Homo sapiens: one gene and its partners. The protein of the gene in region 5 purifies or fractionates together with the protein of the main gene of each other region. This does not show direct contact. Each region holds a gene or a part of one and is shown on either strand. Other genes may lie near its edges. The genes, in order: RFC3, PLEKHS1, SRP9, DDX31, DOT1L, DIMT1 and POLDIP3.

Evidence for each region.
Region 1: the proteins of DOT1L (region 5) and RFC3 purify together in Homo sapiens (affinity purification with mass spectrometry, with the first as the bait; one study listed by BioGRID). This does not show direct contact.
Region 2: the proteins of DOT1L (region 5) and PLEKHS1 purify together in Homo sapiens (affinity purification with mass spectrometry, with the first as the bait; one study listed by BioGRID). This does not show direct contact.
Region 3: the proteins of DOT1L (region 5) and SRP9 purify together in Homo sapiens (affinity purification with mass spectrometry, with the first as the bait; one study listed by BioGRID). This does not show direct contact.
Region 4: the proteins of DOT1L (region 5) and DDX31 purify together in Homo sapiens (affinity purification with mass spectrometry, with the first as the bait; one study listed by BioGRID). This does not show direct contact.
Region 6: the proteins of DOT1L (region 5) and DIMT1 purify together in Homo sapiens (affinity purification with mass spectrometry, with the first as the bait; one study listed by BioGRID). This does not show direct contact.
Region 7: the proteins of DOT1L (region 5) and POLDIP3 purify together in Homo sapiens (affinity purification with mass spectrometry, with the first as the bait; one study listed by BioGRID). This does not show direct contact.

What each region holds. Positions count from the first base shown.
Region 1 is NC_000013.11:33,827,636-33,831,887, reverse strand, and holds part of RFC3 (replication factor C subunit 3), read right to left. Parts: intron 2,053-4,252; coding exon 1,871-2,052; intron 1,170-1,870; coding exon 1,033-1,169; intron 633-1,032; coding exon 534-632; intron 1-533. UniProt on the Homo sapiens protein: Subunit of the replication factor C (RFC) complex which acts during elongation of primed DNA templates by DNA polymerases delta and epsilon, and is necessary for ATP-dependent loading of proliferating cell nuclear antigen (PCNA) onto primed DNA.
Region 2 is NC_000010.11:113,758,033-113,762,284, reverse strand, and holds part of PLEKHS1 (pleckstrin homology domain-containing family S member 1), read right to left. Parts: intron 1-4,252.
Region 3 is NC_000001.11:225,784,138-225,788,389, forward strand, and holds part of SRP9 (signal recognition particle 9 kDa protein), read left to right. Parts: intron 1-2,724; coding exon of another isoform or gene 2,725-2,832; exon of another isoform or gene 2,833-2,848; intron 2,849-4,252. UniProt on the Homo sapiens protein: Component of the signal recognition particle (SRP) complex, a ribonucleoprotein complex that mediates the cotranslational targeting of secretory and membrane proteins to the endoplasmic reticulum (ER).
Region 4 is NC_000009.12:132,662,936-132,667,187, reverse strand, and holds part of DDX31 (ATP-dependent DNA helicase DDX31), read left to right. Parts: intron 1-3,770; exon of another isoform or gene 3,771-3,816; intron 3,817-3,861; exon of another isoform or gene 3,862-3,963; coding exon of another isoform or gene 3,964-3,966; intron 3,967-4,252. UniProt on the Homo sapiens protein: May have DNA helicase activity and RNA helicase activity. Probably have ssDNA and RNA dependent ATPase activity. Plays a role in ribosome biogenesis and TP53/p53 regulation through its interaction with NPM1.
Region 5 is NC_000019.10:2,229,283-2,233,180, forward strand, and holds the end of DOT1L (histone-lysine N-methyltransferase, H3 lysine-79 specific), read left to right. Parts: exon of another isoform or gene 1-502; coding exon 503-510; 3' UTR 511-880; coding exon of another isoform or gene 881-1,330; 3' UTR 1,331-3,296; downstream 3,297-3,898. Other genes in the region: PLEKHJ1 (pleckstrin homology domain-containing family J member 1), read right to left, coding at 881-1,330. UniProt on the Homo sapiens protein: Histone methyltransferase. Methylates 'Lys-79' of histone H3. Nucleosomes are preferred as substrate compared to free histones. Binds to DNA.
Region 6 is NC_000005.10:62,400,845-62,405,624, reverse strand, and holds the start of DIMT1 (dimethyladenosine transferase), read left to right. Parts: upstream 1-1,719; 5' UTR 1,720-1,852; coding exon 1,853-1,931; intron 1,932-2,278; coding exon 2,279-2,352; intron 2,353-3,502; coding exon 3,503-3,589; intron 3,590-4,780. UniProt on the Homo sapiens protein: Specifically dimethylates two adjacent adenosines in the loop of a conserved hairpin near the 3'-end of 18S rRNA in the 40S particle.
Region 7 is NC_000022.11:42,583,367-42,587,618, forward strand, and holds the end of POLDIP3 (polymerase delta-interacting protein 3), read right to left. Parts: intron 4,207-4,252; coding exon 4,140-4,206; intron 2,603-4,139; coding exon 2,425-2,602; 3' UTR 355-2,424; downstream 1-354. UniProt on the Homo sapiens protein: Is involved in regulation of translation. Is preferentially associated with CBC-bound spliced mRNA-protein complexes during the pioneer round of mRNA translation. Contributes to enhanced translational efficiency of spliced over nonspliced mRNAs.

The DNA of each region.
Region 1 (4,252 bases), on a different chromosome or scaffold from region 5:
AACAAATGCAAAAGTACCCTTGGTGAGGCAATAATAATATCTTCAATATACAAATGAAGATAAAACTCTAAAATGAAGTTACCTGATCAAGAACACTTAGCTAGGAGTTCAGGACAAGAACTAGAAGTCTGACTTATAGTCTGGTGTCTTTCTAGCACATGATGCATCATTGATTACAAAGTTTTACATTGTCCTTTACTAGAAAGCTACGCACATTATCTCTAGCTTTGTGTTGTATGTTAATGTTAAGTAATCTGAGATCCTAAAAGGAAAATTAAAATTAATATAAATTCCACTTTTACATGATCACATGTAAGCCATGATATTACAGCTTAATAAAAGCCATAATATCACACACCAACTATTCTGAACCACTAAATTTCTGAAGTTAAATGCTACATTTTCCTTAAAAAGTTAATACATAGATTCAGGATTTAATTATAATTCAAAATGACATTAGCATAAAATAGTTAATATGTGTCCTATGATATCCTGATAATGAAAGCTTTACTGTCATCATTTTATACTGGTACCTTTGTGGAGTTTGCTGACTGACAATAGCATTTGCAGTCTCCCTCAGATACACCTCCCAATCTGTCTCAGGGATTTCTTGATCTGCAGTAAAAGGATATCTACATGACAAAAAGAGAACACAAGAAGTTAAACAGAAGTGTGCTTATGTCCTAAAACAGGAGTCCCCAACCACTGGTCCGTGCGGTTAGGAACCGGGCTGCACAGCAGGAGTGAGCAGCGGATAGGCCAGCATTATGGCCTGAGTTCCACCTCCTGTCGGACCAGTGATGTTATTAGCTTCTGATAGGAGCGTGAACCGTATTGTGAACTGCTTATGCAAGGGATCTACGCTCCAAATGAAAATCTAATGCTTAATAATCTGAGGTGGAACAATTTCATCCTGAAACCATCCCCCACCCCTGCCCAGTCCATGGAAAAATTGTCTTCCACAAAACTGGTCCCTGGTGCCAAAAAGCTTGGGGGCCAAAGTCCTAGAATGTAACTACCCCTTCCACTCACTGTTGCACTCTGCAGGCTTCACACATAAGCAGGGCTTTTCTGAGATTTCTACAAGACTTCTCTGCAAGTCTATGAGCCAGTTGTGAAGGAAGATTCAGACCTTCCTTCTTACACACAGTAGATAACACGTGGCAAATCTACAAATAAAATTAACAAAAATGGGCAATCCATTAAAAAGCAGATTAAGATTCATTTCTGTTGATATCCTCCTAGACCCTTATAACTGTATTACTCTCAAAATTCTTATAAGTGAAACTTACACTAAAAGTAACTTACCACTCTGCATCTAACACAATGTTGCATATTATCCCTACTTTGCATGAAATCTCCCAAAATCTATTAAAAGCTGGAAAGATATTTAATGTGAGGAATCATAATTTTTGCTGATGGCTGTTAAGAATGGAGAAAAAAATATATCTATGTATATATATTCATATTAATGTTATTTCATACTAACTTTAATTCCCTTCCTAGGGACTAGGTATTCCCACATCATCTCTTTGCAAAATCTGTTTCCTCAATATTCCAGCCTCCTCTTATAGCCAACTAAATCAGCTTGAGAAAGAAGACAGTAAATAACTAGCCCTTACCTAGTTTAGTAGAATTCGTAATACCTACTTGTTCAAAGTAAAGATGGTTTAAAGGGAAAAACACTTTCTATATATTGGCATCTGGTATTTACAACTATACGCTTTGGTTTGTTCACATATTAATGCTTTGCATCCAGGTCTGTAGGTGTTCTTAAATTACTGATACGATTCCCTTCTTTTACAACAAGCATACAATATTCAGAGAATCTGAACTGATTTATTTTTCAGAAAAGTGTAACTTGACCTACATCTTCAATGCTGGGAGCAGGCACACGAACCGCCAAGCACCTACTACGAATAGGTGGGATCACTTTAGATGTAGAATTGCAGCACAAGATCAATCTGCAGGTAGACATATATTTTTCCATGGTTCTTCGCAAGGCATGCTGAGCATCTTTGGTGAGTTTGTCAACTTCTGTCAATAATACCACTGAGTCAAAGAGAAACAAAACAAACTTTAACTTGAGTTCACTCAAACTTTAACTTGTCTCTTTCTTCCTTCTCATTATCCAGGATGAAATCCTAAATAATAAGCCTGATATACTACTCTTCCCATTGGCAAAGATAAAGTTATAAGTATGGTAAAATTACTTTATTATTTTAAAATGCTACAATCATACTCCAGTTTCTCTTCAGATCATATAAATATTTTGCCTTTTACTAAAGACTTCTATAGAGAGGAACAGCTCTGAGTTTTTAATATTGTGAGACCTTGCGTTGGCAGGGCTAGTAAAAAAAAGAAAAGAATCTATAATCAAACAAGACCAAGAAACACTAGGCTAAATGAAGTTAAAAGGTCACTTTGTAGTAGAAATCATTGCAACCTTTATTATTTATATGCGCTAAAATTTACCAAGACAAGGAAGTACTGTGCTGCATTTCCCCAAAATAACTTTACTCAGCAGCACATTTCTGTGGTACACCTTAATCTAAAATATTAAATTCCAAGGAATAGACTTTGGAAGACAGTGGTGCAAGAGATGTAGGCAACAAGGCATGAGGATATCTGGCCACCATAAAGTAAGATTCCATCTGGCCACAATCACAGATCAGCCTTAACATAGTTCAGGAATAATGTATACACAGAAACTGAATCCAATATTGTATTTTTCATTATATTAACAAATTATTTCTAGAAGATGAACTGGCAGCATGTAGCATTTAGATCTGCCCCATAAAAATAAACAGAACAACTAAAGATTCCAAAACAAAGAACCCATGAACATTATACAGAAACCAGGCAACAAGCTTTACCCAAGAACCCCAAACATGAGCAAGTGAGAATAAGCAACTAAAACTGGAAAGGCCCACATAGTATCAGCAACGGTGTGGGAGGAAGATTTTGACAGACTTTATGACAGGAAAAGCTCAAAATCACCCACGGGAACATACTAGAAACCATGGTGCGGCCAATTTGAAAGCAGCAGTTGGCCAGGCACAGTGGCTCATGCCTGTAATCTGCCTGTAATCCCAACATTTTGGGAGGCTGAGGAAGGCAGATCCCTTGAGCCCAAGAATTCAACACTAGCCTGGGCAACATAGCAAAACCCCATGTCTACAAAAATACAAAACATTGCCGGGCATGGTGGTGTGTGCCTGTAGTCCCAGGAGACTGAAGTGGGAGGATTACTTGAGCCCAGGAGGTCAAGGCTGCAGTAAGCTCTGATGGCACCGCTGCACTCCAGCCTGTTGCCACACAGTGAGACACTGTCTCAAAGAAAGCAGCAGTCTTACCGAGGGGGGAGATTCGACAGAGCCCAATTTATGGGTGAGAGCAAGGGAACCCTGATGCAGTAAGGTTTGACAGAACAGCAGACTCTGAGAATACCAAAATGAAGTTCCCTTCTAAGACAGTGTTCCAGGTGGCTGTGGCTGGTGCAGTGGCTTGTGCCTGTAATCCCAGCACTGTGGGTAGCCGAGCTAGGAAGATGGCTTGAGGACAGGAGTTCCAGACTAAGACAATGCTCCACAATGAGAAGAAATCCCAGACCAAATTGAGAACAGGTAAAAGAGAGACAAAGGAAAGAATCCCAATAAAGGTGACAGAAAATAAGATAGGGAATAGAGCTCAGAACACAAGGTCATTTATTTACTTTATTTTTTTATTTTATTTTTTTAGAGACAGGGTCTCACTCTGTCACCCAGGCGGGAGTGCAGTAGCTTGATCATGGCTCACTGCAATCCCAAACTCCTGGGTTCAAGCAATCTTCCCACCTCAGCTCCCAAGTAGCTAAGACTACAGGCATGAGCCTAATTTTTTTTTTTTCTTCCTTTGGCAAGATCGGGTCTTGTTGGTCTCAATTTCCTGGCCTTAAGTAAAGTGTCATATATTTTTTATCACTTTGTAAAAATAATACAAGAGGTAGCTGTAGAGCCCCAGACCTAAAAAAAACTCTCTGGCCTTCCTCTCCTTCCCTAAGTACAGGAAAAATCACTTTACTTTTAACAAAATGACCAACACAAAAGGATCATGGCCAAATTTCAACAGTTATGCAAGAAAGACGAGCAGAGGAGCAGAATAACATCTTTATGGATATGAAAGAGACAAATTATTTCCTAAACTGTTACTTAATTCATAGTTATTGTTCTTTTTAAGTAACAGTAAGCTTCATGTAAGAATAGGTTAATTC
Region 2 (4,252 bases), on a different chromosome or scaffold from region 5:
CAGAGACAACCAATGAAACCAAAGTTAATCCATTAAAAAGATTAAGTTAACAAACCTCTACCTAGGCAGATAGACCAGAAAAACTGGAGAGAAAACACAATTTGCCAATATTAGGAGGAGAGAGGGGACATATCTACAGAGTCTACTGATATTAAAAGGATAATAAAGAAATATTATAGACAACTTTATTCCAATAAATTTGGCAACTTAGGTAAACTGAAAAATTCCTTGAACTACACCAACAAAGGTCACTGAAGAAGAAATAGATAACCTGAATAGCCTCCTATAGTTATTAAAGAAATTGGAGTTGTAGTTAAAAATTCTTCATATAGGCCCAAGTGGCTGTACTGTTCTCTTTGATCAAACATGTAAGCAAGAAATAATCAATTCTACACAAAGCCTCCCAAAAAAATTGAAGAGAAGGGAATATTTCTCAACTCATTCTATGAGGCTAGCATTACTCTTCTTGATTGAAAACTCTTAGCAAACTTATTTAAAACATTAAAAAATGCATCCAAAATAAGTAAAAATAAATAAAACATCCAAATGGAAAAGAATGAAATAAAATCATTTCTATTTGCAAGTGACATAATCTCATATGTTAAAAATCCCAAAGAATCCCCAAAAACTACTAGAGCTAATAAATTCAGCAGTATTCAAGAACAACAGACAAAAATTAGCTATATTTCTATAAACCAGCAATAAATAATCCAAAAATAAAATTATGAAAACAGTTCCATTTACAATAGCATCCAAAAGAAAAAAGTACCTAGGGTTAAATTTAACTAGGCAGATAAAAAGACTGGTACACTGCAAACTAGAAAAATTGCTGAAATAAAGAGACATAAATTAATGGGAAAACATTCCATATTTATGAATTGAAAGACTTAATACTGTTAAGATATAAATACTACCTAAAGCAATCTATAAATTCAATGCAATCTCTATTAAAATCCCAATGGCATTTTTTATCTTGTAAAACTAGAAAAGCTAATCCTCAAAATCATCAAAAATACCAAGGGGCCCTGAATATCCAAAATAATCTTCAAGAAGAACAAAGAGTACACACACTTCCCAATTTCAAAACTTACTACAAAGCTACAATAATCAAGAGTGTCGTTTTGGTATAAGGACAGATAAGACACATAGGCCAATGGAATAGAATTCAGAGTCCAGAAACAAACCCATACATTAGTGGTCACGGCCATTCAATGGGGAGAGAACAGTCTTTTCAATAAATGGTGCTGGGCCAACTGAGTATTCACATGCAAAAGAATGAATTTGGACCCCTATGTCATCCCAAATAATGAAGTTAACTCAAATAAATGACCTTAACATGAGAGCTAAAACCATAAAACTTTTAGTAGAAAACATAGGTGTAAATTTTTATAATCTTGGATTTGACAATGTATTCTTAGATATGATACCAAAAGCACAAGCAACAAACAAAAAAGATAAACTAGACTTCATCAAAATTAAAAACTTTTGTGCATCAAAGGATATTATTAAGAAAGTGAAAAGACTACCTACAGAATGGGATAAAATATTCAAAAATCATATATCTGACCAGGGCCTACTATCCAGAATATATAAAGAACTCTTACAATGCAACACAAAAAGACAAACAACTCAACTAAAAAGTGAACAAAGAACTTGAACAGACATTCTTCTAAAGAAAATAAGCAAATAGCCAATAAGCACAAGAAAAGCTGTGCAATACATTTAGTCATTAAGGAAATGTAGATCAAAATTAAAATAAGAAACCACTTCATGCTCACTAGGATGGCTATAACTTTTTTCTTTTTTTTTTGAGATGTAGCCCAGGTTGGTCTGGAACTCATGTGCTCAAGCAATACTACTGCCTTGGCCTCCCAAAGTACTGGGATTATAGGCGTGAGCCACCACACCTGGCCCATTCTACTCTTAAGTAAAGGAATATACAAATACAAAAGCTGGTCATGAATGTTGATAGCAGCTTTATTTGTAATAGCCAAAGACTGGAAGCAACCCTGATGTTCATCAACAGGTGAAAGGATTAACACATTGTGATACATCTATACAATGGAATACTATATGGGAATAAAAAGAAACAAACTATTGACAGATGCAACGACATGGGTAAATCTCAAGATAATTATGCTGAGTGAAAAAGATGTCAGACAGAAAGTGTTCATACTGCATGATTATATAAAGTTCTATACAAACTAACATATAGGGATAGAAAGCAGATCAGGGGTTGTCTGGGGAAGTATGACTGCATGGAAGAGTGGGAGGCAGGGGACCAAGAAAACTTGTGAGGTTGATGAATATGCTTATTATCCTGATTTAGGTGATAATTTTATGGCTGTGTACATTTGCCAAAACTTATTAAATTGTAGACTTTAAACATGTCAGCCTACTGTATGTCAATTATACCTCAATAAAGCTTTTTAAAAAATCTAACAAATTTGAATGAAAAGTAAGCATACTCCAACCATATGACCCAGCCATTTTGATTCTAGGTAAAATAAAGAAATATATGATTTTACAAAAATTAATGCACAAATGTTCATATTAGCTTTATAATAGGCGAAGACTGGAAGCAACCTGGATATTCAACAGGTGAATGAATCAACAAATTGTAGTACATCCATATAATGGAATACTACTCATCAAAAAAATGAACTATTTTTGCACTATTGGTGCACTCAATACCAGGGATATATTTTTAAAAAATTATGCTGAGTGAAAAAAGTCAGACAAAAGGGTGTATGCTGTATGATTCCATTTATGTTAAACTCTAATAAATACAAACAAACTTACAGTGAGAGAAAACAGAACAATGGGGACTGGGATTGGGTGTGCAGAAAAGGATTACAAACAGGCACAAGAAAACATCAAGAGTGATGAGTGTGTTTACTATTACCCAGGCTGGAGTGCAGTGGTATGATCTTGGCTCACTGCAACCTCTGCCTCCCAGTTCAGGTGATTCTCTTGCCTCAGCCTCCTGAGTAGCTGGGATTACAGGTGCCGGCCATCACACCTGGCTAATATTTGTATTTTTAGTAGAGATGGGGCTTCACCATGTTGGCCAGGCTGGTCTTGAACTCCTGACCTCAAGTGATCTGCCCACCTCAGCCTTCCAAAGTGCTAGGATTACAGGCGTGAGCCACCGCACCCGGCCACATTTACCATCTTGATGATTTCCCAGGTGTCACACATATCAAATACAGGCAGACCTCATTTTGTTGCACTTCACTTTATTGTGCTTTGCATATATTGCTTTTTTTTTTATTTACAAATTGAAGGTTTATGGCAACCCTGCACTGAGCAAGTCTACTGGGACCATTTTTTCAAGAGCATATGCTTACTTAGTGTCTCTGTGTCACATTTTGGCAATTCTTGCAATATCTCAAACATTTTCATCATCATCATATCTATTAGAGTGACCAGCAATGAGTGATCTTTGAGTAATTGTTTTGGGACAGTATGAATGGTGCCCATATAAGATGGTGAACTTCAAAAATGTTGTGTGTGTTCTGATTGCTCCACTGACTGGCTATTCCCCCATCTCTCTCCTCTCCTTGGACCTCCCTATTCAATGAGACTCAACAATATTGAAATTAGGCCAATTAATAACTTTACAATGGCCTCTAAGTGAAGGCGAGTGTCAAGTGAAAGGTGAGTTACATGTCTCTCACTTTCAATTAAAAGCTAGAAAATCCTAAGGCCCTTAAGAATTATACTAAATCTACTCTACTTGTGCTCTATCAGTGCAACAACAAAGCCTGGGTGACAGCATATCTGTTTATAACATGGTTTAATGAATATTTCTAGAAGCCCACTGCAGAGACCTGCTACTTAGAAAAAAAAAGATTCCTTTCAAAATATTACTGATCATTGACAATACACCTGGTCACCCAAGAGCTCTGATGGAGATGTACAAGGAGACTAATGCTGTTTACATGCCTGCTAACACAACATCTATTCTGTAGCCCCTAGATCAAGGAGTAATTTCAACTTTTAAGTCTTATTATTTAAGAAATACATTTCATAAGGCTATAGCTGTTGTAGATCGTGATTCCTCTGATGGATCTGGGCAAAGTTAATTGAAAACCTTCTGGAAAGGATTCACCATTCTAGATGTCATAAAAATATTCATGATTCCTAGAAGGAGGTCAAAATATCAACATCAACAGGAGTCTGGAGGAAGTGGATTCCAATACTCCTCGATGACTTTGAGGGGTTCAAAACTTCCTTCAGTGGAGGAAGT
Region 3 (4,252 bases), on a different chromosome or scaffold from region 5:
TTTAGTTCATATTCTTCTGACTTTCTGACTAGCATCTGTATCTCACATACCCTCAAAATTCACTTATCTACAGTGGAGTTTATCACCTGTTCTTTTTTTTTTTTTTTTTTTTTTTTTTTTTTTTTTTGAGACGGAGTCTTGCTCTGTCGCCCAGGCTGGAGTGCAGTGGTGTGATCTCGGCTCACTGCAAGCTCTGCCTCCCGGGTTCATGCCATTCTTCTGCCTCAGCCTCCCGAGTAGCTGGGACTACAGGCACCCACCACCACGCCCAGCTAATTTTTTTTTGTATTTTTAGTAGAGACAGGGTTTCACCATGTTGGCCAGGATGATCTGGATCTCCTGACCTCGTGATCCACCCGTCTCGGCCTCCGAAAATGGTGGGATTACAGGCATGAACCACCCCACCCGGCCTATCATCTGTTCTTAAACTAGCTCTTTCTCATGCCTGTAATCCCAGCATTTTGGAAGGTCAAGTGGGCAGATCACAAGGTCAGGAGATCGAGACCATCCTGGCTAACACGGTGAAACCCCATCTCTACTAAAAATACAAAAAAATTAGCCAGGCATGGTGGCGGGCACCTGTAGTCCCAGCTACTCAGGAGGCTGAGGCAGGAGAATGGCATAAACCTGGGAGGTGGAGCTTGCAGTGAGCAGAGATCGTGCCACTGCACTCCAGCCTGGGTGACACAGCAAGACTCCATCTCAAAAAAACAAACAAAAAAACTAGCTGCTTCTTCTGTTCCTACCTTCCTACCTTTAGTTGCATTATTTTCCACGTGGTCAGAAATCTGGGGATTTTTTTTAATTAAAAAAATTTTTTTAGAGACAGGATATCGCTATGTTGCCCAGGCTGGTCTTGAACTCCTGGCTTCAAGCAGTCCTCCCACTCAGCCTCCCAAGTTGCTGGGATTACACACATGGGCCACAGTGCACAGCCCAGAGTGATTTCTATTTAGACGGAGTCTCGCTCTGTTGCAAGGCTGGAGTGCAGTGGGCGATCTCTGCTCACTGCAGCCTCCACCTCCTGGGTTCAAGTGATTCTCCTGCCTCAGCCTCCTGAGTAGCTGGGACTACAGCCGTGCACCACCACGCCCAACTAATTTTTTTTTTTTTTTTTTTTAGTAGAGACGGGGTTTTCACCATGTTGACCAGGATGGTCTCCATCTCTTTACCTCATGATCCACCCACCTTGGCCTCTGAAAGTGCTGAGATTACAGGGGTGAGCCACTGCGCCTGGCCTTTTCTTTTTATTTGTTTGTTTGTTTGATGGAGTCTCGCTCTGTCGCCCAGGCTGGAGTGCAGTGGCGCAATCTCGGCTCACTGCAAACTGCCTCCTGGGTTCACGCCATTCTCCTGCCTCAGCCTCCTGAGTAGCTGGGACTACAGGCGCCCGCCACCACGCCTGGCTAATTTTGTGTATTTTTAGTAGAGACGGGGTTTCACCCTGTTAGCCAGGATGGTCTCGAACTCCTGACCTCGTGATCTGCCCGCCTTGGCCTCCCAAAGTGTTGGGATTATAGGCGTGAGCCACTGTGCCTGGACTTTTTTTTTTTTTTTTTTTTAAAGAAGGAGTCTGGCTCTATTACCCAGACTGGAGTGCAATGGTTCATTCTTGGCTCACTGCAACCTCTGCCTTCCGGGTTCAAGCAATTCTCCTGCCTCGGCCTCCCAAGTAGGTGGGATTACAGGTGGGCACCACCACACCCAGCTAATTTTTGTATTTTTAGTAGAGATGAGATTTCACCATGTCGCCCAGGCGGCTGGAGTTGAACTCCTGACCTCAAGCGATCCACCCACCTCGGCCTCCCAAAGTGCTGGGATTACAGGTGTGATCCACCACGCCCAGCCCCAGAGTGATTTCTGAAAGGCTAATTTGATTGTTACTCCCTTGCTTAGAAACCTTTAAACTCCACCCTTGCATCCTCTCTAATCTCTGTCATTTCTGTATTATGTAAGAGCTCCTTTAATGTGCTGTGATGTGTTAGGCCTCAGTGCTTTCAAACATTCTGTTTCCTCCTTTGCAATATTGAATCCCACCTCCACCCCTAATGTGGCCAGACTGCTGCTTATCTTTCAAAACCCAACTTGAGGATTACTTCATTTCTTGCTTTTCATTTTGGCTTTTTGTGCTGTATCACAATTCTTTTATCACATTTGTCTTTTTAATAGACTGCCCTTCAAGACAATAGAGATAGATCAGTAATATTCTTACATGTCTTATTTCCATTGCCTACTATGATGTCTTGACCCAGAGAGCACTCAGTAAACATTTTTTAAATAGTTAGTTCTTTTGAAAATTTTATAGAGTGATTTTAAAAATCACTTTTTGTCTTTGGTCATATATTGTATTTGTGTTCAGGGTTCCATTATGATGAGACTGCATGAAGTTAGACCTTTTAGTGATTACCATGTCTTCTAAGAACCAATTGAATGTAGTGAGTAGCTAAACATGTGGAAAAGGAAGAGTGAATCGAGATGTAGTATACTAGACATAGATTGAAGAGATGTGAATCCTAGCTTAGTCATTTACTAGCATTTTGGCCTTGGAAAAGTTTAGGCCAAAAATTTAGCCTTCTGGTCTCAATTTCCTCATCTGTAAAGTATCATAGTGATAGTAAAAAAATATATGAAAGTATCTAACATGAGTGCTTACCCTTGGTAGATTGAGTACATGTATTCTTTTGTTTGTTGATTGGTTGGTTGATTGCTTTTTTTTTTTTTTAGAGACAGTGTCTTGCTCTATTGCTCAGGCTGCAGTGCAGTGGCATGATCATAGCTCACTGCATCCTCGACCTCCTGGGCTCAAGCGGTCCTCTTGCTTCAGCCTCCTGAATAGCAGAGACTACAGGTGTGCACCACCACACTCAGCTAATTTTTAAATTTTTTTGTCAAGACAGGGTCTCATTATATTGCCCAGGTTGATCTGGAACTCCTGGACTCAAGCCATCTTTCTGCCTTAGCCTCCCAAACCACTGGGATTATGGGTGTGAACCACTAAGTACTTCTTAAATCTTGACATTCCACACAGAAAAATTTTAATTGTGATTGTCACAGAGTGGTTAGGTATACTTGCTGAAGAAAAACCCCTATGTCCTGTCTTAAAAATAGGGGAATAGGCCGGGCGCGGTGGCTCGTGCTGGTAATCCCAGCATTTTGGGAGGCTGAGGTGGGCGGATCATGAGGTCAGGAGTTCGAGACCAGCCTGACCAACACAGTGAAACCCCGTCTCTACTAAAAATACAAATATTAGCATGGTGGTGGGTGCCTGTAATCTCAGCTACTTGGGAGGCTGAGGCAGGAGAATCGCTTGAACCTGGGACTGGGAGGCAGAGGTTGCAATGAGCCAAGATTGTGCCACTGCACTCTAGCCTGGGTGACAGAACTAGACTCGGTCTCAAAAAAAATAAAATAAGGGAATAAATGCAGAACGAATTTTAATACAAAAGGCCTTATCTCCAATTGATGGCTCTTTTTGCCCTGTTAATGATTGAATATAATTAAGGATCCATGTTAACTTCGACTTTTTTATAATCCCATGTATCCATCATTTTTCTAATCCCATAATTGATTTAGAATACTGTCTTCTATGGACCTAAAATCTTTTTCTGTCAGAAATTTCAGTGAGAAGGTATGTACATTCTCTCATAGGACATGTGCTAAAATTTTGATGATGAAGATTAATATGGCCTTTTTACAAGATTGCCGCACAAATTTGTACAATGCGTGGATAAAAATTTTTTTAAGTGAGTTGTTTAAAAGGCTCACTTAAAAAAATCAGTTGGGCATGATGAGGTTGAACTTCAAGTTATTTAAGTTGTTGACTTTTATTATAGGATCATTAGTTCCTGTTGTTTAAAACTCATGTGAACCTTTAAGATGGGCTGAAGAAAAGTGGATCTGTACTACAAAATGAGGAAAGGGCTGCCAGCTTAAAGTTGCTGTTTTTGAAGATTCTACAACAGATGGCTTTATGACCAACCATAAGCAGATCTTAAGTATCTAGTGAAGAATTTAACTGCTAACAAGGAAGAATTTGGTTTGATTTAAAAGTAATATCTTCAAGCCTGGGCAACATGGAGAAACCCCGTCTCTACTAAAAATAGAAAAATTAGCTAGGTGTGGTTGTGTGTGCCTGTAGTCCCAGCTACTCAGGAAGCTGAGGATCGCTTGAGCCCAGGACGCAGGTTGCAGTGAGCTGAGATTGCACCACTACACCCCCAACCTGGGCCACAGAGTGAGACACTGTCTCAAA
Region 4 (4,252 bases), on a different chromosome or scaffold from region 5:
AACACTATGCAGAAATTTTCTCTCTAAAAATACTTTCTGGGCTGGGCGAGGTGGCTCACACCTGTAATCTCATCACTTTGGGAGGCCGAGGCAGGCAGATCACTTGAGGTCAGGAGTTGGAGACCAGCCTGGCCAACACGGTGAAACCCCATCTCTACTAAAAATACAAAAAAAAGGCTTGGCGCAGTGGCTCACGCCTGTAATCCCAGCACTTTGGGAGGCCGAGGCCGGTGGATCACGAGGTCAGGAGATCGAGACCATCCTGGCTAACACAGTGAAACCCCGTCTCTATTAAAAATACAAAAAATTAGCCGGGTGTGGTGGCTGGTGGTGGGTGACTATAGTCCAAGCCACTCGGGAGGCTGAGGCAGGACAATGCTGTGAACCCAGGAGGCGGAGCTTGCAGTGAGCCGAGATTGCGCCACTGCACTCCAGCCTGGGCGACAGAGCGAGACTCTGTCTCAAAAAAAAAAAACAAAAACAAAAAACAAACACAAAAATAGCTGGGTGTGGTGGTGGGTGCCTGTGATCCCAGCCACTCGGGAGGCTGAGGCACGAGAATCACTTGAACCCAGGAACCAGTGGAGGTTGCAGTGAGCAGAGATCACTGCACTCCAGCTGGGGTGACAGTGTGAGACTGTCTCAAAACAAAAGCAAAACAAAAAAAAATTTCTGATATTAATACAAATTTATTATAGAAAATTAGGAAAAAAGATTTTTAAAAACCCACTCATAATTGCCATACTCAGACAATGCTTGTTGCCATTTTGGTGTATGTCCTTTTAGAGAACAACTCAAAATTGGAATCACTACACATGATGTTTTCTTTTTTTTTTTTAACTTATCAAAAATTAAGAATTATTATGAAGCTCTATTTCTTCAGACAGTCTGGAATAAGGTGCAAAACTGTACAAATTGACCAGCAAAGGAGAAAAGAGAGCCCAGAAGCAGACCAATACAAAAATGGAAATTTTATTCATGACCGAGATGACACTGCAAATTGCTTAGGAAAAGCTGACATTTTTAATAAGTGGCACTGGAACAATTGGTTGTGTGGTTGTGTGAATTTAAAAACTGAAATTGGAACCTTATCTCGCACTATGTATAAAAAACCAAATCCATGTGGATTAAGACTATACAAGGCAAAACTATAATGTTGAGCAGAAAGAGTAAGTTTCCAGCATACACATGTTTTCTAAAGCAAAGAGGATGCAGTTAATAAAAGGGATTATAGTATTGTTGTGAGGCCTCTAGAATGTAGAATCATGATGCCTGGGGAAAGCCTGGTTCCTTCAGTGATTCTGGGACAAATTACGTCACATCTCTGCCTCCATGTTTGCATCTTAAAATGAGATGATAACAGTACCTGTGTTGATAAATGAGAGAATACATGTGAGTACTTAGTATACTCCTTGGCATATAGTAACTACTCAGTATGTTTATTAATATCAAAGCCATGGCATCTTAGACTCTCAGGTCTTGATGGGCCCTAGAGGTCATCTGCCAAAATCCCCTCATTTTACAGGTGCGGCAACAGAGACTCAAACGAATTTTTTAGTAGATTTTTAGTAGATTTTAGATTTTTAGTAGTAATTTTTAGTAGATTCAGATATGTCCTTGCTCCCTCTCTGCTCAGAGGCTACCTCACGAAGCATTCTTGGTTTTCTTGCCTCCCTCTCCTTTGCCAGAAGGAGGCCATGTTAGTCTAGCTTTTGTTGGTGCTCTCATAGCCTTTTTTATGTACCTCTTCTGTAGCACCAATGTAGAGGTTGGATTTATGCCTTTATACTTTTGTCTCCTCTGCTAGTGTGTAACTTCCTCAAGGGCTTGGCAAATCTACTTTGTATCTTCAGAACGAAGCTTCTTGACAACTGCTAAATGAATGTGTTTTGGATGCTGGGGGAGAAAAGCTAACAAGTAGTAGAACCGTATCCAGCTGGTGGAAAGGGATAATTCCATTGTGTGTTATTCATTCATCTTACAAGTATTTGTTGAGTGCTTACTCTGCCAGACAGGGGCCTATACAGGGGATACAGTGCTATGTAGGACAGACTGGCCCCTTTCTTGTGGAGCTTACAATCTAACGGGAAAGACAGACATAAAACAACGAGTTCCGTGCTATGCTTATTATTTTGTCGAATGCTATGGAGGAGAATACGGGTGCCAGGAGAGCCAAGAACAGAGCACCTTGGCTTGACTGGGTGAAGAGAGGTCAGGAAAGGCTCTTCTGAGGAAGGAGTTGGTCAGCCTCCATCTGAAGGATGAGTACAGGGTGGCCAGCCAGAGGGCAGAGTGGAGTCCTGGATGTGGGAGTAGCATGTGCAAAGGAGGAGGAAGGAGCACAGCACATTCTAGGAACTGAAGGAAGACCCGAGTGGCAGAGAGTAAAGCTGAAGCTGGTGAGGTGGCCAGAGGTCAGATTCTAGAAGGCTTTGTTGATCATATTACAGTTTTTTTTTTTTTTTTTTTTTGAGCGAGGGTCTTACTCTGTCACCCAGGCTGGAGAGCAGTGGCATCATGGCGTCATCACGACTCAATCCAGCCTTGACCTCCCGGGCTCAGGTGATGCCCCCAACTTAGCCTCCAGGTAGCTGGGACTACAGACATGCACCACCATGCCCAGCTAATTTTTGTATTTTTTTGTAGAGACAGGGTTTCACCATATTGCCCAGGCTGGTCTCGAACTCCTGGCCTCAAGCAATCAGCTCACCTCAGCCTCACAAAGTGCTGGGATTACAGGCATGATCCATGGCACCTGGCAATATTACAGATTTTTTAGTTCAGCCTAAGAGCAATGGAAAACCTAATGGGTTTAACTCTGAGTACTTGCTTTTAGAGAGATGTTGACATAGGAATAAAGGGTGACCAAGATGATAAAGGATCTAAAGTTGTGTCCTGTTTGAAATATTGAGTCCAAAGAAGAAAGAAAAGAGAGTTATGTGATATATGAAGGAATGTTATGTGTTAAGAGGAAGTAAGCTTGTTCTGTGTTGCTGCAGAAAGTATACCTCAGACTATTAGGTAGATGTTCAAGGATGCAGATCTTGCATAAATGTCAGAGACAGCTTCCTGATTCCTAGAATGGGTCATGAACAGAATGGGCTGCCTCATGGGATGCAGGAGGTGTGCAGGGAGAGGCTGCCAGTCCACCTGCCCGGGACTGTCAGGAAGTCCATGTATGGCGGGAGTGGCCTTTAAGAGTTTTTGTGCTCCAGGAGTCCTGGGTCTGTAAATCAGGTGAAGTCTGCACATTTCATACTGTCTTGCAAATGATTCAACAAACCTGAAACTTGATTTCATCTCTTTCTTTAATCTGAAAATTCATAAACTTGAGATTTTGTAAAAAATAAATTTGTAAGATGGAATATGTCCGTTTTTACTTTATTAATATTAGATATTTGAAGTTGTATTTAATTACTTAGGTAAAAGAATCCTTAGGGAACAAAGAACTGTTGTTATTGGTAGGTTAGTCTGAAGCTGACAGTCATGGCTAAAGAAAGCCGACATGTAAAACCAAGTCATTATTTCAAGCAAAGAGGAAAATAACATATTCTGAGAGAACCCAAAACTCCAGAATAACAAGCACTGGCTACTCAAGGGATGCTTTTATATTCATTTGTAAATCAGAAAAGAAGGCCAAAGAAAATAGAGGAATTGGATGTTCCTTCTCCTAGGGGAAGTTTGGACATCATGCATTTAAGCACATTCCTGTAATGGAAATAAGAAGCAACAGGCAAGAGATCCCTAGTGCTGTGTAGCCTGTAATCCGCAATCAGGCAGAGACTCGGGGACTCAGAGACTCGAAAGGCAAGGGAGGTAGGAAGTAATTGTGGTAGAGGTGATGGATGGAGCAGCATTCTCATTTGGAATGGGAACAGGGCGTAGGAATTTTCTCCAGGCCGTCTGAATCTGGAGGAGCAGCTTGAGAGGAGAGAATGAGAGAGATCCAGGCGCTAGGGTAGAATGGTAATGAATGTTTCCGCTTCCTGGGCACGGGCTGAGATGCGCATTCCCCCTCGCCCCTCTCTCCTGTGCGGTCTCCAGTGTGCTTTGTTGGTGGAGAGAAAAGATTCGTTTTCCCCCACCCCTCTTTTCTCCTTGGGTGAATGGGTTCCTAGGAATATGGATTGACACACCCTTCACAAGGTGGATTCTTGCTTCCCTTAAAACAGACTCCATTAGTTAACATTCAACTGGAAAAATGCTGCTTCTTCATCCTTACCTTATCTTGATTGATTTAACAGTTAAGAAT
Region 5 (3,898 bases):
GGCGGCGTAGTGCAAAGGTGCCCTCTGCTTGCCCCTGGCCTTCTGCCTCAGGGGCCCCTGGGACACAGGCCTTCCTGGGCGAGTCCAAAGCCCACCGGGCAAGGAGAGGAGGACTGGGAGCCAGGAGCCAAGGCGGAGGCTGTGGCCAGGGCTGGTCAGCCTGGCGGGTCAATGCGGGCACCTGCGGGCTGGACAAGCTATGCTGGGTCTCTTAGGAGATGAGCTGCAGGTAGGGTGGCTTTAGCTGGACTCGGCTGTGTGTCTCCTTTGGAGGAAGGCTGGAGCTTGGCCGGCGTGTCCAGGTGTCAGGCTCCCTGGTCTGTCACGGGGCACGCCCGTCGTCTGTTGTGGTTAGAGGAGCTGGCACTATGCCTGTCATGGTGCTGGCCCCAGGTGGCGTGTGTGCTCGTGGGAGGCCTCGGTCCCCAGCCTGGGTGAGTGTTGGGCTCCCCCAGGCGCGATGGTAACCTCAGGCCGCTCTTCCCGCTGTGCCCTTCTGCAGGTAACTAGGATTTCTACCTCAACCGCGAGACCTATGCAAGGACGGTGTGGACCAACTCGCGCCCGCGGCATGGTGCCCGCCGGCCTGCCGGGCTCCCACCCCTGGACGGCAGAGGCAAGGACGGACGGGAGCTCCACTGTGAATCGGCGGCACGCGCCGCAGGAGGCTGGGACTGGTCCAGTTTGTACTGTCGATAGTTTTAGATAAAGTATTTATCATTTTTTAAAAAGTATAAACAATTCTGACTTATTTTATTCCATCTAAGTGGTAAAAGGCAACTTATTGAGAAATATAAATATCTATATATGAGAGCTCTATATAAAGACACGTGTCTGCAGGGCGGGCCCGCCAGCGGATTCGCCACAGCCTGCCCCGGTGCTATCTCGTCCCCAGGCCCGCGCCTGCCTCCACCCGCTTGGTGCTGACTAGACGCTGACAACGCCGAACCCCGTTCTCGGAAACGCCGCCCGGCCGGCTCCCCCGACGCGCTGCTCCCGTACCAAAGGCAGGCCCGTCGCCACCACATTCCTCGGAGGCCTCCCCGCGGCCTGAGCCCCTTCCTGAGCGCCCTGGCGCCTGCCCTGAGCTCTTCACCTTTACCCCGGCACTGTGAACCCCCAGACTGTTCACCCTCCGGGGCGTGGGTTGCGCCCTTGCATGTGAAGGGGCCTGCGCGGTGACGCAGCTGGCCATGTGCTGCGCGATGGTGCTGTGAGGACGGCGCGGGCACGTTGAACAAGTGCATTTACTTTTGTATTTCTCGGCTGTCCATGGCTCGCAGCATGCCCTGCGATGCGGGGCAGGCCTGTCGTGGGTCCCTTGGTGTTTCTGTACAGGAGAGAGTCACACTAATGAGTGGCAGTATTTTATAGAGATGTGATGAGAATTTATAAATTTCATAGATTTGACAGCTTTTATTTTTAGATGGTATAATGCACAGTGAAGAGGAAAGAAAAGCGAGGGGAAAAAACCTTATTTATTCAAACAGTGCACAAAATGGCCCCAGCGTCAGCCCCGACCCTAGACCCCTCAGTTGCAGCTCCCAGCAGCCCAGACAGAGCTGCCGGCGCCCCTGCCTGCCCCACATCCCTTCCTGTCAGGGCCACGCCTGGCACCCATCCCTTGGAGCCTGTGCTGGTTCTCCCAGCTGCTGTGGGTGTGCTGGGGCCAGGGTGCACTGCTGAAACCTGGCCTCTCTGGCCCTAGGCCCCAGGGTGACGTCGGCCCCCCACTCTGCAGCCTTGGCGGGTGCCTGGGACTGGGTGTGGAAGGAGAGGAGCTGAGGCCGGGGTGTAGCAGGCAGGCAGGGCCACTCCAGTGCTTCTGGAGCCCTGAGCAGTCAGGGCCTGGGTTGTCTGAGCAGTGGTGGCTCTGTGCCCTCCCTGGAGGATGGGATCTGGGAGTCTGAGCTCCCCGCATCTGGCCCTGGGCTGTGTGGCACTTGCTGAGCCCACCTTCTCAAGTGCTTGCTCCTGTGAGATGGCATCGGGGAGCCCCTTCCCCAAGGTGCCACAGATCCACCCTCCAGGGAGCTGCCAGCCCTGTGTTCTGGTTCCCAAGGGCAGGATGGACACACGTCACATCCCTACCACGTGGCCTCCAAAGGGAGCCACGGAGGAAAGGCTTCTGTGGTTGCTAGGTGGGGGAGTCCTGTGTGGGAGGGCCTGAAGACCCCTGCTTGTGCCTGGTGAGGGGGGTGCTGCCTCCCCCAGCCCCCAACAACCTCTCAGACCCCCACCCTCCAACATAGCTGAGTTCTGAAGATGGTGCTCCGGACCTGTCCTCTTAAGTGGTGCCCAGTGCCCTCCCCACCCCACGTTGGTGCTCTCAGCTAGAAGGTGCTGTGCCTCTGCCTGAGCCCCAAGCCCCGAGCCTGGCCTTCAGGACAGGCAGCCTGCTCTGTGTCGCCACGGGCCGGATACGCCACAGGGTTGATGGCAGAGACGGCCGAGTCCCTGGTCTAGAACAAGACACATTCTTTAAACACTGTATTACTTCTGCCTCCCTCTAGGTGACAGTGGCAGTCCGGGTGCCATCACGGGTCCTGCAGATGGCCATGCAGGGCTCCTGCCCACGCAGGCCACCGTATGTTCAGGACACGCACTGGGTCTCAGAGCCACTGGCCCAGGCAGAAGTCTCCTTGAGCCCACTGGGTCATATGCGTGTCACCACACGTGAACTAGTGTGGTGGCTGCCTGCGGACACCCTCCTGTTCTGAGCCCTGGGCCTGTGTTCTTCTCAGACACTCCCAGACTGAGGGGTGGTGTGTGGCGGGTGGCAGGGTGGCTGTGGAGACTGGGGATCTGGAGCCTGGTGCTGGCACCTGGCCTGAGTTTCCGTGGGCAGCTGGCGGGGACCTGTGCTGCTGCTGCTGACTGTGGGTGGGCGGGCGGCGCCTGGGAGTGGCTCTTGCTCAGGAATTGATAGGAACCCTAAAAACTAGGATACCCCCTCCTCGGCCCATGAGGCACGCACAGTGACTTATTTAAGACTTCCCCCTTAATTTATCTGCCCCCAGGATGCGTCAGTCTGTTCAGTGGTCAGCAGGCCCCCCACCCCCCGCCGACTGCCCTCGCCATCGTGGTCAGACCCCCCTCCCAACACAACACGCTGCTGGTCTGTGTCAGCCTTTGTAACGTGGGAGGCTCTGCCGTGTCTTCCGGGTGAACTGTATTTGGATTGCGCGCATTGTCACGGTCCGCCCCTGGGCTGCAGGCGCCCCTTCCTCTGGGCACCCCTGCATTCTGCATCCCCACCTCTAGACGCTGTAATAAACAGACTGTTTTCACTCGGACCTGGTGTGAATGGCAGCCTTTCTTCCAGGTGGCATGAGGCGTCTCCTGGCGGCCAGTGAGAGGCCCCGGCTAGTGTGTCATCGCCGAAACGGGGAGTGGAGGGCCTAGGGGTGCTCCTAGCAGAAGCTCCGGGGGCTGACACCAGGACACCCTGGCCTTGGGGAGGCTTATGAGGGCACCAGGCCACAGGCAAGGGGAGGCTTATGAGGGCACCAGGCCACAGGCAAAGTGCCTTTTGATGAACGGAAAACCAGATCTGCGACCCCAATGACATCGGCAAAGTCCTTTTCACATCAGATGGACCAAAGCCCGCCCAGGCCCCAGCCACACTCCGGGAGGGCCCGTGAATGCCAGAGGCAGGACCCCAGGTCACCACAGGATTCCTGATACCACACAGCAGCTCTGTTCTCCCCAGGCCTGGGTCCCAGCCTCCACCTGTCCTGGCTGGGGGTTCTAGCTCTCCCCTCAGTGCAGGAGGCCCAGCCACTGCCTCTCAGGACCCTGAGCCTTACTTCCCTTGGGTGGGGGCTCCCTGGCTGCCCCTCCCCTCTCCTTCACTTCACCGCCATCCAGTGTGGAAAAGAGGTACCTTTATTTGAAC
Region 6 (4,780 bases), on a different chromosome or scaffold from region 5:
CAAATTCTCGGGCTCAAGTGAGGCTCCCACCTCAGCTTCCCGAGTAGCTGAGACTACAGGCCTGCACCACCACGCCTGGCTAATTTTTGTATTTTTTGTAGAGACGGGGTCTCACTTTGTTGCCCAGGTTGATCTCAAACTTCTCAGCTCAAGTGATCCGCTCGCCTTGGCCTCTCAAAGTGCTGGGATTACAGGCATGAGCCACCTCTCCAGGCCATGTCCATCCTATTAACATTTGGAAGTGCCTAGCACAGTGTACTCTTTAGAATTGTGGAATAACAATGATTGATGAAATGAAACATATACTTGAAGATGCTACTAGGGTATACGAGATTTTTTTTCTGACTTAGAACTACATCAAAGAAAGAAGGGCCTAAGACCAAGGTTTGGGAATGTACACAATGAATTGCTCAAAAGAGAGTTAGCTTTAGTAATGACAGGAAGAAGCTATTTCTTCAACCAAACAGAATACACACAGAAAAATTTAAAAGAGCCATTACACTGGCTGGCAAAACAGATGTGGATATTATGGCCCTGGTACACACGGAGTTTATAGTCAGGTACACTGTCCTGTCACAACGACCAATACGTTATCGTATTTACAGCGTTTTGGAGTTTCTGTCCATCTCTGTCAATATAATACACTTTGAAATAAGTTTCTTACTTAGAATCCCTAGCAGTGTTTGATACACAGTTGGAGCTCAATAAATGTTTACGGAGTGAATGATGAGGCACAAAAGGAATTTGTTGAATTATTTGTTAAATGAATCAAATAATTTTCTAGGATTCACGGGCTGTCTTCTGCACGATAAGCTTCATTCTGTGGGTCTGAGTTTCTCCTGGTTCTCAATTCTGTCTTTTTGTGGATTATCTACTTTGTAGCTGGAGCTTTGTATCTGTTTAAGATAATTATTCTTCTATTCCTTTTTTTTTTTTTTTTTTTTTGAGACGGAGTCTCGCTCTGCCGCCCAGGCTGGAGTGCAGTAGCGCGATCTCGGCTCACTGCAACCTCCGCCTCCTGGGTTCACGCCACTCTCCTGCCTCAGTCTCCCAAGTAGCTGAGACTACAGGCGCCCACCACCACGCCCGGCTAATTTTTTGTATTTTTAGTAGAGACGGGGTTTCCCCGTGTTAGCCAGGATGGTCTCGATCTCCTGACCTTGTGATCCGCCCGCCTCTGCCTCCCAGAGTGCTGGGATTACAGGCGTGAGCCTCCGCGCCCGGCTCTTCTATTCTTAGTAGAAGCAACCAGTAGCCCTAGCGAAACCAGACGTTAATTCCATTCTCGCAGTTCTTTTCCCCAGGGCAAGCAGCAAAAAATGCATTCCCACAAAAGAGCAAGCTCATCCCCAAATCCCGGGTTTCCCACCCCCACAAGCTTCAGGAAAACAGGAGCGAGGCACGTGAATACTTCTTTGGACCTCAGCGATCCCAGAACCTAGGCTACTAAAACATCCATAGGCTTAACCTCATCATATAACTTAAACAGCCTTCGCAACACCGAGAGCACCACACCAACACCTTCTTATCCAGCCCTGGTTGGGACAAGGGCTCCAACTCCAGACTGCAGTCCTCGGTAGCGCGGTGTCTTCTGGGATCTGTAGGCTCCCGCGGTTCGGCCTTCCTCCCTCTGTGACTCCAATTCCCGGCAGTCAGTGGGCTCCAAGGTCCGCCCTTTTTCTGGAGGAGGAGCTCAGAGCGTACGGGAGGGGGCGGACCCTTGCCCCTCCGGCGCTTGGGCCAGAGTGGTGCGGGCGGCGCGTGGCGGCGATCCCCACGTGGTGGCTTTCTCACGCTAGCCCTCTTTGGTCCTCCTTGACGTCCCGGGCCTGTGGGCCCGCTTTCTGCCGAGATGCCGAAGGTCAAGTCGGGGGCCATCGGCCGCCGCCGCGGGCGGCAGGAGCAGCGCCGGGAGCTGAAGAGCGCTGGAGGTGCGGATCCCCGCGAGGAAGCTGGGGTCGGTCGGGTCAGGTCTTCCGGCAGGACCTAGCCTGGGGTGCGGACCAAGACCTGATCGGCAGAGGCCGGTCAGGACGCGCTCCCGTGAGCGCGGAAGGCAGGGGTGGGTCCCCGACTCGGCCGCAGGCCCTGCGCGTCGCCGCTGACTTCCTTTCCAGCTGGAGGATGAACTTATAAAGAGTTTGTCAGTCCTGGCGTGACGTTTCGTGGCCCTGGTTGGCGCAGAAATCTTCCCCATACCCATGCAGCTTTCTTCTCTGGTACTGCCTAATATCTAATCTCAGTAGGAAAATTAATGCTGTTTCGTATTTTCTTACAGGACTCATGTTCAACACGGGGATTGGGCAGCACATTTTGAAAAATCCTCTCATTATTAACAGCATTATCGATAAGGTGGGTGTGGAAGAGGAAAGGGAGAGAGTTGTTGGTTTATTAATTTTATTCCTATGAATACATAAGCGCAGAAAGTCTGCCTGCCGTAAATTAGATGCTCTGTAAATATTTGTTGAATGAATCAAATAATTGTCTAGGATTCTTGGGCTGTCTTCTGCATGATAAGCTTCATTTTGTGGGTCTGAGTTTCTCCTGGTTCCCAATTCTGTGTCTTTTTGTGGATTATCTACTTTATAGCTGGACCTTTGTATTTGTTCAAGATAATTATTCTTCTATTTCTAATCACCTTTTTGATCACTTAGTTTTTATGTACTCCATCTATTTATGTCTAAACTACACATTAGAAAGTTTGTTCCCCAGAAAAACATATAGTACTACATATAAATTATTTGGTGTATGCTAGTACCACATATAAATTGCTTGGAGTATTACTGCTTTCTGAGTTATTGATGTTCTCTTATGGTTATGGATGATTGGGTGTTAGGAAGTGAAATACACACGGTGCAGATTACACTTATGGTTAAAAGCAAGGAAAGCATCCTGGAGCTGTAGAAAGAGCATTACATAGTTAAAGGATCTTGTCAGGCTTCGTGTCATTTGAAAACTGAGAAAAAAAGAAAGAAGGGTCATGTACTATTTTAACCTTTTTAGCTCATAGTTTCCTTTGAGCATCTGATGAAAGCTATGGCCGTAGAATATTAGAGCTGTGTGCAGACATTCAATTTTGTGTACAGTTTCTGCTCTTCTGCATCCTTGAAACCATACATGGGTTGAAAATTGAAAAATCTTCGCCCAACACGTACAGTCCTTTCCCATTTGAACTTGTTGATACGAACAGAGAAGGTAACAAGAGGCTATTGGAATATTTCCAGATAGAAAGCAGAATGCCAATCCCAGAAATGCTGTTGCTGCTTTTCTGACTCCTAAAGTTGAACAGTATTCCTCCAAGTTAGGAGAGGTCTTAGATTTTCATTTGCACCAAATGTTATTGAGGTAATTTTGTTAACCACGTAGATCATGAAGAAATCTAAAAATGGAGTCAGATTAAGAGCTCTTATCGGAGCACATATGAGTAAAGATGTTCAGGTGTAAATTAACTTCTGTGTTCTGATGTTGCCAGAAGAGCTAAAGTGTTTGTGCTTGCTTTTAGGCTGCCTTAAGACCAACTGATGTAGTGCTGGAAGTTGGACCTGGAACTGGCAACATGACTGTAAAGTTGTTAGAAAAGGCAAAAAAGGTAGAAAGGGGATTTAATGTTTGGTATCACAAATGACTATGTTAGCAAGCTCAGTTGGTTTACAATCTAAATATGTTTTAACTAATTGCTATTATTTTAGTAGTAACTCCTGATCCCTTGTTGGAAATTTTGTCTTAGAAAATATGAGATATTTCAGCCAGGCGCGGTGGCTCACGCCTGTAATCCCAGCACTTTGGGAGGCCGAGGCAGGTGGATCATGAGGTCAAGAGATTGAGACCATCCTGGGCAATATGGTGAAACCCCATCTCAACTAAAAATACAAAAATTAGCCGAGTGTGGTGGCAGGTGCCTGTAGTCCCAGCTACTTGGGAGGCTGGGGCAGGAGAATCACTTGAACCCGGAAGGCAGAGGTTGCAGTGAGCCAGGATTGCACCACTGCACTCCAGCCTGGTGACAGAGTGAGACTCTGTCTCAAAAAAAAAAAAAAAAAAAAAGGAAAATATGAGATATTTCAGTGAGGAAAACAGAAACCACATTAGGTATTTCAACAGGGAATTTTTTTTTTTTTTTTTTTTTTTTGGAGAGGGAATTTCACACTGTTCCCCAGGCTGGAGTGCAGAGATGCAGTCCTGGCTCACAGCAACCTCTGCCTCCTGGGTTCAAGAGATTCTCCTGCCTCAGCCTCCCCAGTAGCTGAGATTATAGGCACCTGCCCCCACACCAGCTAATTTTTGTATTTTTAGTAGAGATGCGGTTTCACCATGTTGGCCACACTGGTCTTAAACTCCTGACCTCAGGTGATCCGCCAACTTTGGCTTCCCAAAGTGCTGGGATTACAGGCATGAACCACCATGCCCAGCCTCAACAGGGAGTTTAATTAGGAAGGAAATACCCAACGCCTCCCCTTTGTACCCTATAATGCTGGTGCCTTTCACTGGCCAATTCCAACCAGAAGTTGAAAGGTAAGGGAGCTGAACTGCATTATCTGTAGGATGCAGAGAAAAGCGGATAATAGATCTGGGAGGGCCTTTCATGGTGGCTCACACCTGTAATCCCAGCACTTTGGGAGGCTAAGGCGGGTGGATGGCTTGAGCCTAGGAGTTGAAGACCAGCCTGGGCAACATGGTGAAACCCCATCTCTACAAAAAATTGGCTGGGCATGGTGGTGCCTGACTGTAGCCCTGGCTAGCAGGGAGGCTGAGGTGGGAGGTTTACCTGAGCCTGGGAAGT
Region 7 (4,252 bases), on a different chromosome or scaffold from region 5:
AGTTCCACCCCAAATGTTGAAATCCCTGCAAGATTAAAACCCTTGGCTGGGCGTGGTGGCTCACGCCTGTTAATTCCAACTTTGGGAGGCCGAGGCAGGCAGACCACCTGAGGTCAGGATTTCAAGACCAGCTTGTGCAACATGGTGAAACCTCATCTCTACAAAAATTAGCCAGACATGGTGATGCACGCCTGCAGTCCCAGCTAATTGGGAGGCTGAGGTGGGAGGATTACTTGAGTCTGGCTGCGGAGGTTGCAGTGAGCTGAGATAGTGCCACTGCACTCCAGCCTTGGCAACAGAGTGAGACTTTGTCTCAAAAAAAAAAAAAAAAAAAAAAAAAAGATAACTCAAAGGTAGGAATAACAAATGTTTATTCAGAAATGGATAAGTAATACATAATCACCCTTCATCTCTTAATGCCCCTTCCTCTCCTTCTGCACAGGAGACACAGATGGGTAACATAGAGGCATGGGAAGTGGAGGAGGACACAGGACTAGCCCACCACCTTCTCCTCCCGGTCTCCCAAGATGACTGCTTATAGAGTGGAGGAGGCAAACAGGTCCCCTCAATGTACCAGATGGTCACCTATAGCACCAGCTCCAGATGGCCACGTGGCTGCAGCTGGACTCAATGAAACTCTGTGACAACCAGAAGATACCTGCTTTGGGATGAGAGGGAGGATAAAGCCATGCAGGGAGGATATTTACCATCCCTACCCTAAGCACAGTGCAAGCAGTGAGCCCCCGGCTCCCAGTACCTGAAAAACCAGGTCCTACTGCCTTCTGGATGCTCTCTTGGGCCAGGAAGGGAAAAGTGTGGGAGGAATGTCTTCCAGCTGCTAACGAGAAGTCTGCACCCACTTGAAAGGGTTAGGAGAATAAAAAGCAGCATTCTTTAAAGAACTGCAAGTGGAGCACCACCAGGCCCCTTCCTTGGACTTTCCCGTCCTGGGCAGCCTCAGAGCCTGCACACTGAAGCTGGGTTCAAATCCTGGGTCCTTCCTGCCTGACAGACTGACCCCTGGAAACATGAGTCTCTGGTTTTTTTCACTGGGCTAGCCTCAAGCAAATCTTGGGAGCTCTTGAGTATCTTCGGCATGTGCCTTTTCCAGCACTTGCTACTGATTTTGCAGAGCTCCCAGAACCGTGCTCCCCAACTGGCTCCAGCTCTGCCAGCCTGGATTCTCTTCACTCCCAACCAGCAGGGGACCACTCAGTGACAACACTGGCCTGGTCATTCAGGGACTGCCTGGGCTCTGAAGTTTCGTCCCAACTGTCTGCGCCTATGCTGGGGAAACACCTTGCCTGGTAGAGCTGCCCTGCTCCCTTGACTCCTCCTCCTCTGCCAAGGCAGGAAAATAATCCTCTGGTCATGGATGGATGGGGTCACTCACATAAGTGGGAACAAACAGTGCCCCTTGGTGGCAGCTGGATATATGCCTCCAGGCATCCCTGACCACTGTCCTGTAGACAACTGAGGCCAGAAATGGAGAGCCAGGAACAAACTGACCTCTTCCATTCAAATAAGCTCCAAACCCAAGCACTGCACAATGGGAGGCTGAGCCTTTCAAAGGCCCAACCAGAAGAGAGCTGGCGGCTACACAAAACCAGGGTGTGGTTAAGTGCCAGGCGAGGTGAGAACCGGGAGGGCTCACAACACAGCCCCCTCCCAGCAAAGACACCCAGAAGGGAAAGAGAGCTGGGGTGGGGCATTCAGCACAACTCAAGGAAAAGGGAAAGGTGAACTCTGGAGAACTTCCTCTGGGTGGAGACGACACGGGACTCCAAGCCAAGAGCTTAGATAGACTCTTCCCAGCGGTGCAGCCTCATCCTGCCCTTGCCACTAGTGAGGCCTGGAGCCACTGGGGAGAGGACAAGAGGCCTGAGACCTGCTCCCCACCCAGGCACCTCCACTGACAAGACAGAGGAGCGGCACAGCTCTCAGGCCGACCTGGCTCCCGTCAGGACACCAGGGCTCTCCATCCCCTCCATTGTTTGAAAAGCTTAATACACACAAAGGAAAGGCAGCCCCTCGGCCCCTGGAAAAAGCAGGGTCCTTCAGACAGCCCCCACGCTGCATCCCATGGGGCCACAAGAAAGCCACCCAGAGAATTCAGTGTACCATTTCCAGATAAGAAATCAGCTTGGGGCTGAGGCTCGGGGAGGCACACACTGAAAAACACAAGCCTACCTTGGCGATGAGATGAAGAAACATACTACAGGAAACGTTAACGTAGAGAGAAGAGCACAGGGCAGAACACAACACAGAAAGGCGGGTCCCATCCAGTGAGGAAGCTCTTTATCCCTGGCAACCCTTCCCACAATCAGGGGTCTCCAGTCCGATGGCCCATTGGTCATAAGCTTTGCCTTGGGGAAACAGAGCCACCCTCCTCTGCCCCCACTTCTGGCTGCCTCACTCCCCTGCTCAAAGCTTGATTTTGAATTCTGTGGGCTGCGTGGTCACAGAGGCCCCTGAGGACTTGAAGAGTGCCTTCAGGATGGTGTCAGGGTCCACTTCGGCAGGGGGGTTGGAGGAGGAGGCAGAGTTCACCCTGCGAGGCAGCTCGCTCTCCTTTTTCATTGATGGGCTGTCACTCAGCCGCCTGTGGAGAGCAGAGAAGAGTCAAAAATTCTTGTCAGTTTTTCCTTAGATGGGGAGGGGACCCACCATTTACTGGGCATCTGTCATGAGCTAGGCACTGGGTGTAACACTTTCCATACCCCTTCATCTCATTCCACCTCGCAGCAAACTCAATCACAGCTCACATCAGCCTCCATCTCCTAGGCTCAAGCAGTTCTCCTGCCACAGCCTCCTAAGGAGCTAGGACTACAGGCGTGTACCACCATGCCTGGCTCATTTTTAAAATTTTTTGTAGAGACCAGGTCTTGCTATGTGGCCCAGGCTGTGTTTTTCTTATTTACTGATGAGAAAATGGAGACGCAGGCAGTGCTGTATGTTCTAGGGTTTTGTGGGGTTTTTTTGAGACAGAATCTCACTCTGTCACCCAGGCTGAAGTGCAGTGGCATGATGATGGCTCACTAGTCTCGATCTTCCAGGCTCAAGCGATCCTCCCACCTCGGCCCCCCAAGTAACTGGGACTATAGGTGCATGCCACCACACCTGGCTAATTGTGGTTTTAAGTTTAGGAAACACTGCATGTTCCTTCTGGATGGTAACATCCATTAGCATATTACACAATCTGAGAAGCCCGAAAGTGAAACAGATGTAACTCTGTTTAGCCCAGTAGTTCCCAAACTTATTAGGTTACAAAACCCTAAGAAATATTTCTTATTCCTTGAACACAGTTTAAGAACTTATCCAAATCACATAATTCATTACCCAGGGTTCAAATCCTAGTCTTTTTAAATCTCAAAGTCTATTTCAGCCCTGCCCCACACTATCCCACTCACCCTGGCAAGTCTAACCTCCTCCCTGGTATCTGCTTCCTTATCTAGAAGGTGAAGTCCTCACAGTCTCAACATTTTATGCATCTCAGGCTTCAAAACATCCCTCAGTCCTGGGCCAGGCATGTATACTCAGCTGTGTGCAACAAAAGCCTTCAATGGCTTCCCACTGTACTTAAAAGCCAAATCCAGCTGGGCGTGATGGTGTGCGCCTATAGTCCCAGGTCCTCAGGAGGCTGAGGGGAGAGGGTTGCTTGACCCCAGGAGTTTGAAACCAACCTGGGCAACACAGTGAGACTCTCAAAATAACTGAAAAAGCAAAAAACAAACAAACAAACAAACAAACAAAAAACCTCACTGGGGAACAAAATAAGGGGTAGCATCTGGCACTGTCTCCATCAGAGCCAATCATGCAGTGGAGTTCTCTGTTCCCGGGATGATGCACACAGCTAGGAGACCCAAGCAGCCTCCCCCTCCAACTTCCACTCAGATATTTCTAAATCAGAAAGCTGAGAACGAGATCATAATGCTAGTCCCTATAGGGTCAAGCCCTGGGGAAATAACAAAGCAAACCATTTTGGTCAAGTTTAAGCATATGAAACGGCCAGCTGCCATTAGAACAGAGGAAACGGAATGGGGGGATGAAGGGGAGCTGTGATGCAGGCAGTTTACCCATTAGAACAAAAAGAGATGGACGGAGCTGCCTCTCCCCAGCACCCCGCCTTTGGAACTCACAGCAGGATGGGCTGGTCTGAGGTGATAACATTCCCATTCATGTGAAGGTTGCACTTCATCGGCTGCCCTGAAAAACCAAAGAAAGAAAAAGGCTCTGCTATGAGACCTCGGCT